Homo sapiens: one gene and its partner. The protein of the gene in region 1 interacts with the protein of each later gene in a pairwise test. Each region holds a gene or a part of one and is shown on either strand. Other genes may lie near its edges. The genes, in order: MTFR2 and MAGEA12.

Region 1 (3,916 bases):
AGCTTGTGAATAGCAAGTTTTCTACCTGGATCAAACTGGGGGAGGGGAACACAGGAAAACTCCAGAAAGCAAGCCACTATATTTTTGAACACTACTCAGAGACAACAGAAAAGCTAGCTTTGTGATGTCAGAAAAGCTTTCTTGGACCCTATCTCATTCTAAGAGTTCAGGAAAATCTAATTTCGTGTAAAAATGAGCAATGGAAAAAGATGTCCAATCACATAAAATGTTTTTGTCAAAATGGAATTATGAATGCTTTAGTAAACTGGAAGAAATATCTCTGAAGAATTTAGAAGAAAGTTGTCAGCAAAGCATTTATGGATGTAGTATTTGACCTGGGTCCTCCTTGCTACTTAAATCAGTTGGAATATTAACCTATGTTAATAGTGCAGCTGGAAGAGTAGTGGTTCCGTTCTCATTCTGGAGGGATGTTTTCATTCTGGCCCTGTCTGTTTGCTGTTTGATAAGAGAGTGGGAAAGGGAGGGGGTTATAAAGTCGTGATTTATTCACAAGGGCAAAGGGAAGGACAAGGAACTTGAGAAAATTACTCCATCTAGGGTTTCTGATCCATCATCATCCTTGTTCTGCGCTCACTCAGCCGTATCCAGCTCTACTGGGCATATCACTATTATTGCTATCAATTGTTTTGCTAGTTGCTTAGTCCCAAATCATTATCATCTTTTCTGTCATTCCACATTTAGGTATTTTATTCAACAAATAGACTGAATGCCTATTATATACCAGACACTCTTCTAAAGCACTGGGGAAAGATAGAGCATGGATCAAAACAACTTCCTGTTCTCCTGGAGTCTACAATTTTGTTTGGTGGTAGTGGAAGCGTAACTAAATATATATGATAAGTGCTATAGAGAAAAGCAAATTAGGGTTAGAATGGAACGAGATGCCCCGCTGGCCTGTAAGCTCCAGGAGGACGAGGACCTGCCCTCTCATTAAGGTATTTTCCGTGCTTAGAATGGTGTCTGCTACGTAGTAGATATCTATTATTGGTTGAATGAATAAGTGATGTTGACCATAGATAAATTAGTTCAAAACTTAGATTTTCAAATTATGTCAGTAGCAGGCACACATCTTAAATTGTTATATCACTCCAGTGCACGTCTTGCTGAAATTCAGAAGAGGAAGCTATTTCGTATGAAGCCAATAACCTCAAATCAGAAATGAAAACTGGGATATCACCTGTCATATCACTTGCCATCCTCGGCTAAGCCAGGAGAGTGTCCGGCCCAATATTCGGTAGCCTGGATACGTAGGTGTATTTAGTGAACGAAAGAATGAATCCTAGCCACTGCAAAGCTGCAAAACCCTCGGGGGTAGTGCTTGGCTTCTGCCAGTTCCACAAGTATTTTAATATTAGCTGAACAAATGAAATGACCAAAAAATAAATCGCGATTTTGTGTCAGATGAACTTGGGAAGGCGGATGCGCTTAGGGTCCGGCTGTAGCGAGTAAGACACTCCCTGCGAAGAGTTCTGTGGGGTACGAACTCCGGACTGCGAGTCCAGCTCACGAGTTTGTACCTAAAACCTTGCCCTGCGGGAGCGACGCTGTCCTAACGCGACCTGCCCTGCCCGTCAGCTCCTATTGGCTGACTCTCGGAAGACCCGCCTCTTGAGAAGGAAAAGCAGTCGCTTCCCGAATTGCCTGACATCATGCAATGACCAATCAGAAGCAGCGATCTTCAGTTTTGCCCAATGAGGCTGGTTACGGGTCCTGGCCCGCGGAGTTTGATTTCGTCCTGGGATGCGGAAGTAGCAGTCCTGTCATGCGGAAGTAGCAGTCCGGTCCTAGGGACTAGCAGGTGGGTTGGTTGGGCGCAGGAGGACGGGGGCGCGCTTCCCATAACATTACCCTGGCTGAGCGTGAGGCTCCAGGGCTGGGCACCGGGTTGACCTCTTATTCCTCGCTGAGGGCATCGTTACCGCCTGTGGCTGCAAGCCGAGGCGCGCGGGTGGAAACTGGGTCGAGGTCTGGGTAGACGTCTGAGCGATCTGCACAAGGAGTGGCGCAGTCTGGAATTTGATTGAGGATTCCTAACGCCCTCCGCTTGATGTTCTGGTGATTCCCGGGGGCTCGGCTTCGGAGGAAGGTGAGCAAGGCTACCACGCTGTGTTTGGAGAGCACCAGGAAGCTTGTGACCAAAGCGAGGGACGCGATCCGGCTCTGGTCACGGCCTGTTACTAGATGGGTGACCAAGTCACGTCCCGTATCTGGAATTCATGCTTCTCATTTTAAAAGAGTGAGGAGGGATGGGCATTCCACATGGCTGGGGAGGCCTCACAATCATTGCTGAAGGCAAATGAGTAGCAAAGTCACATTTTACATGGTGGCAGGCAAGAGGGCTTGTGCAGGGGAACTCCTGTTGATAAAACCATCACATCTCATGAGACTTATTCACTACCACGAGCATAGTATGGGGGAAGCTGCCCCCATGATTCAGTTATCTTCACCTGGCCCCACCCTTGACACGTGAGGATATGTGTGTGAGAAGAGCTACTGTTTATTTTTTTAAAAACTGAGTCGTCCCTTGCCTGCTTTCAAGGGTTGGCTAAACTCACCCATCTGCTAAGAGTCTCAGCCCAAAGCTTTCAGGAAAGAGCGAGCTTCGCTGTGGCATGTAACTTGAAGCCTTGCCTACTAAGTAGATGTCCAGTTTGTTGATTGGTCTCTATTAACTAGGCTCAAACATCCTACGAGGTTTTAATGTAATCTAACCAATTAATTGAAATTTCCTTTACAACCCTCTCTTTCCCCCAGACTTCCCCTTCCTTTCTTTTTCTCTGACTTAAAAGAATGCTGGCTAGGAGAAATTAGTTGACTGTGTCGTGTATCAAGAGGACTTTTCCAGGTTATGTAGTACAATTTGGCATTTATTTGTCAAGAGTAACATTTTCTAAAATTTTCCCCAAAGGCACCAAGAAACTGATAATGTTCCTTTGAATTGGCTTCTGTATTTGCTTCATCAATGTCTCTCATACTGAATATCTTAAGAGAGATGCTGGAATATTTTGGCGTTCCTGTAGAACAGGTAAATGTCGTTTTGGATTGGAATGGATCTGTTGTATTTGTTCTTGGGTTTCATTTTGAAAATGACTTATATGTAATCATTTGATTTAAGGCAAAGTTGTTGCTTCTTTTTAGTTGGAACAAAGGTGAGTTTGTAATAGTATAGCTTTGATGATTTGAGTTAGAAGAGGGATAAGATTATTGAGAACATATTTACCTGATAGGACAAATGCCAACAGAAGATACAAAGGAAGCAAAATATAGACATGAGCTTCACAGAATTACATTTATTGCACAGATACATTAAAACTTCTATTCAAGGTAATTTATAAACAAGTTCAATATTTAAAGCTCAATAAATCCAGAATAAATCTAATGGAAAGAGGATGATTTAGGCCTGAGAATTATAAGCTGTATTAGTCTGTTCTCATGCTGCTAATAAAGACATACCGGAGACTGGGTAATTTATAAAGGAAAGAGGTTTAATTGACTCACAGTTCCACATGGCTGGGGAGGCCTCACAATCATTGCTGAAGGCAAATGAGTAGCAAAGTCACATTTTACATGGTGGCAGGCAAGAGAGCTTGTGCAGGGGAACTCCTGTTTATAAAACCATCACATCTCATGAGACTTATTCACTACCACGAGCATAGTATGGGAGAAGCTGCCCCCATGATTCAGTTATCTTCACCTGGCCCCACCCTTGACACGTGAGGATAATTACAATTCAAGGTGAGATTTGGGTGGGGACACAGCCAAACCATATCATAAGCAAATCAAATTTTATCTACTTGTTGAAAATCTGCTGTATCTAAGACAATATGCTTGTTTCTGCAGGTAATACAGAGGAGTAATACATGGTTGTATTCATAATGCTTAAAATATGAGGAAT
Region 2 (3,916 bases), on another chromosome or scaffold:
AATACCATTATCGATCTTGAAAATTCAAAGGAAAAGGCATGTGGAATATTCAAGTGCATCGGCCTTCAGAATGAGGTGTGCAACAGATTACTACAGCAAAATCAAAATCTTCACCTCACGAAAGCAATAACTAACTACAGCAATTAATAGACAATATGCCATTTGCAATAGCAATAAAATCCAAGAATTACCTGAATAGAAGTCTAATAAAAATGTATAAGCTGCTTATAGAGGCAACTATCGAAGTATACTGACATATTCAGGAAAAAATAGCTTGACATACATAGAGGAGTATAACATATTCATTCATGGGGAACACAACAGTGTAAAAATGTAAACTCAGCTTAAATTATTTACAATTTAGTGCCTTACCTGTAGTCGCCGACATTACAAGCAAATTTGGGCTGCTGTGCTCTGCTTCCCAAATCAACCCTGTAAATTTATAGAATGGAAACAGAAAGTAAAAAACCAGTATTAGCAAGAAAATCTACACAACAAAACAGGGCCAGTCCAGGGTGAGACTGAAGACCTTGTTGAGCTGGTACTTGTGTGTGACACTTGCCGTGTCGGTTAGAGGGGGTTAGCGGCAGGGATGTTGGGGAGGTTTGTAGCCTGCCTAGACGGCAGATAACAGAATGGGTAGAATAAAAGTTTTAAAATTTCCACTTCACTTCATTGCACAATCTGAGGCAGCTCCTGAAAACACGATGCCAAGAGCCCTAGGTAATAGCAGGACACCAGGAAAATTGGGTTTGTTAAGGCAGCATGGCTCCAGAGTTCTGCTAATAACAACCTGAAACCAACATAGTGGGAGAGGAATTACGTTTAAAAAAAAATTCCTTCAACAGAACACAAAGACTGGAATAGAAGTAGATTAGGATAGTAAGAGTGAACGATGCATACTAAGGGTAGGTGTTAGTTCGTAGAAATAAATATATATATCGCTACCTACATATATACTTGGAAGATATGTAAACCGTATTTCTTCAATTCAGTGAATAAATCATTTAGGACCAAAGGTTTGCCAAGTGTAGCTCTGGCTGGAGAGGAGCTCCCGTGGGAAAGTGTCTGTCTTCTTCCAGAGGTCAATACGATCGTGGGAGCTCCCGCCCTGCAGGGAGCTCCTGGCCTGGGACCCGCAGCCATTCTCTACAAGGGGTGCAGCTGTGCAAATGCACAGACGTTACAGAAACAGAGTATCTCCTGCCAATCACTTCATCCAACAGCCAGGAGTGAGGAAGAGGACCCTCTTGAGTGAGGACTGAGGGTCCACCCTCCCCCACGTAGTGGGACCACAGAATCCAGCTCAGTCCCTCTTGTCAGCCCTGGTAAACTTAGGCAATAATGTCACCCCGACCACACCCCTCCCCCAGTGCCACTTCAGGGGGACTCAGAGTCAGAGACTTGGTCTGAGGGGAGCAGACACAATCGGCAGAGGATGGCGGTCCAGGCTCAGCCTGGCATCCAAGTCAGGACCTTGAGGGATGACCAAAGGCCCCTCCCACCCCCAACTCCCCCAACCCCACCAGGATCTACAGCCTCAGGATCCCCGTCCCTATCCCTACCCCTACCCCCAACACCATCTTCATGCTTACCTCCACCTCCATCTGGATCCCCATCCAGGAAGAATCCAGTTCCACCCCTGCTGTGAACCCAGGGAAGTCACGGGGCCGGATGTGACGCCACTGACTTGCGCGTTGGAGGTCAGAGAACAGCGAGATTCTCGCCCTGAGCAACGGCCTGACGTCGGTGGAGGGAAGCAGGCGCAGGCTCCGTGAGGAGGCAAGGTAAGATGCCGAGGGAGGACTGAGGCGGGCCTCACCCCAGACAGAGGGCCCCCAATAATCCAGCGCTGCCTCTGCTGCCGGGCCTGGACCACCCTGCAGGGGAAGACTTCTCAGGCTGAGTCGCCACCACCTCACCCCGCCACCCCCCGCCGCTTTAACCGCAGGGAACTCTGGTGTAAGAGCTTTGTGTGACCAGGGCAGGGCTGGTTAGAAGTGCTCAGGGCCCAGACTCAGCCAGGAATCAAGGTCAGGACCCCAAGAGGGGACTGAGGGTAACCCCCCGCACCCCCACCACCATTCCCATCCCCCAACACCAACCCCACCCCCATCCCCCAACACCAAACCCACCACCATCGCTCAAACATCAACGGGACCCCCAAACCCCGATTCCCATCCCCACCCATCCTGGCAGAATCGGAGCTTTGCCCCTGCAATCAACCCACGGAAGCTCCGGGAATGGCGGCCAAGCACGCGGATCCTGACGTTCACATCTGTGGCTCAGGGAGGGAAGGGGGTCGGTATCGTGAGTACGGCCTTTGGGAAGCAGAGGATGGGCCCAAGCCCCTCCTGGAAGATAATGGAGTCCGGAGGGCTCCCAGCATGCCAGGACAGGGGCCCAAAGTACCCCTGTCTCAAACTGAGCCACCTTTTCATTCGGCCGCGGGAATCCTAGGGATACAGACCCACTTCAGCAGGGAGTTGGAGCCCAGCCCTGCGAGGAGTCAAGGGGAGGAAGAAGAGGGAGGACTGAGGGGACCTTGGAGTCCAGATCAGTGGCAACCTTGGGCTGGGGGATCCTGGGCACAGTGGCCTAATGTGCCCCATGCTCATTGCGACTTCAGGGTGACAGATTTGCGGGCTGTGGTCTGAGGAGTGGCACTTCAGGTCAGCAGAGGGAGGAATCCCAGGATCTGCCGGACCCAAGGTGTGCCCCCTTCATGAGGACTGGGGATACCCCCGGCCCAGAAAGAAGGGATGCCACAGAGTCTGGCTGTCCCTTATTCTTAGCTCTAAGGGAACCCGATCAGAGATAGCTCCAATTGGCAATGTCATTTGTACCACAGGCAAGAGGTTGGGGAACCCTCAGGGAGATAAGGTGTTGGTGTAAAGAGGAGCTGTCTGCTCATTTCAGGGGGTTGGGGGTTGAGGAAGGGCAGTCCCTGGCAGGAGTAAAGATGAGTAACCCACAGGAGGCCATCAGAAGCCTCACCCTAGAACCAAAGGGGTCAGCCCTGGACAACCTACCTGGGAGTGACAGGATGTGGCTCCTCCTCACTTCTGTTTCCAGATCTCAGGGAGTTGAGGACCTTTTCTTCAGAGGGTGACTCAGGTCAACACAGGGGCCCCCATGTAGTCGACAGACACAGTGGTCCTAAGATCTACCAAGCATCCAGGTGAGAAGCCTGAGGTAGGATTGAGGGTACCCCTGGGCCAGAACGCTGACAGAGGGCCCCACAGAAATCTGCCCTGCCCCTGCTATTCCCTCAGAGAGCCTGGGCAAGGCTACCTGCTGAGGTCCCTCCATTATCCTGGGATCTTTGATGTCAGGGAAAGGGAGGCCTTGGTCTGAAGGGGCTGCACTCAGGTCAGTAGAGGGAGGCTCTCAGGCCCTAGCAGGAGTAGTGGTGAGGACCAAGCAGGCTCGTCACCCAGGACACCTGGACTCCAATGAATTTGGACATCTCTCATTGTCCTTTGTGGGAGGATCTGGTTATGTATGGCCAGATGTTGGTCCCCTCATGTCCTTCTGTACCGTATCAGGGATGTGAATTCTTGCCATGAGAGTTTCTTTGGCCAGCAAAAGGGCGGTATTAGGCCCTGCAAGGAGAAAGGTGAGGGCCCTGAGTGAGCACAGAAGGGACCCTCCACCCCAGTAGAGTGGGGACCTCACAGAGTCTGGCCGACCCTCCTGACAATTTTGGGAATCTGTGGCTGTACTTGCAGTCTGCACCCTGAGGCCCATGGATTCCTCTCCCAGGAATCAGGAGTTCCAAGAACAAGGCAGTGAGGCCTTGGTCTGAGGCAGTGTCCTGAGGTCACAGAGCAGAGGGGGTGCAGACAGTGCCAACACTGAAGGTTTGCCTTGAATGCACACCAAGGGCCGCACCGGCCCCAGAACACATGGGACT

The links.
Region 2: the proteins of MTFR2 (region 1) and MAGEA12 interact in binary tests that used the Homo sapiens proteins (3 or more experiments, as listed by UniProt).

What each region holds. Positions count from the first base shown.
Region 1 is NC_000006.12:136,248,167-136,252,082, reverse strand, and holds the start of MTFR2 (mitochondrial fission regulator 2), read left to right. Parts: upstream 1-1,771; 5' UTR 1,772-2,107; intron 2,108-2,929; 5' UTR 2,930-2,983; coding exon 2,984-3,046; intron 3,047-3,916. UniProt on the Homo sapiens protein: May play a role in mitochondrial aerobic respiration essentially in the testis. Can also promote mitochondrial fission.
Region 2 is NC_000023.11:152,732,073-152,735,988, forward strand, and holds the start of MAGEA12 (melanoma-associated antigen 12), read left to right. Parts: upstream 1-1,684; 5' UTR 1,685-1,787; intron 1,788-1,789; exon of another isoform or gene 1,790-1,962; intron 1,963-3,075; 5' UTR 3,076-3,181; intron 3,182-3,916. Other genes in the region: CSAG1 (chondrosarcoma-associated gene 1 protein), read right to left, coding at 373-388. UniProt on the Homo sapiens protein: Not known, though may play a role tumor transformation or progression. In vitro promotes cell viability in melanoma cell lines.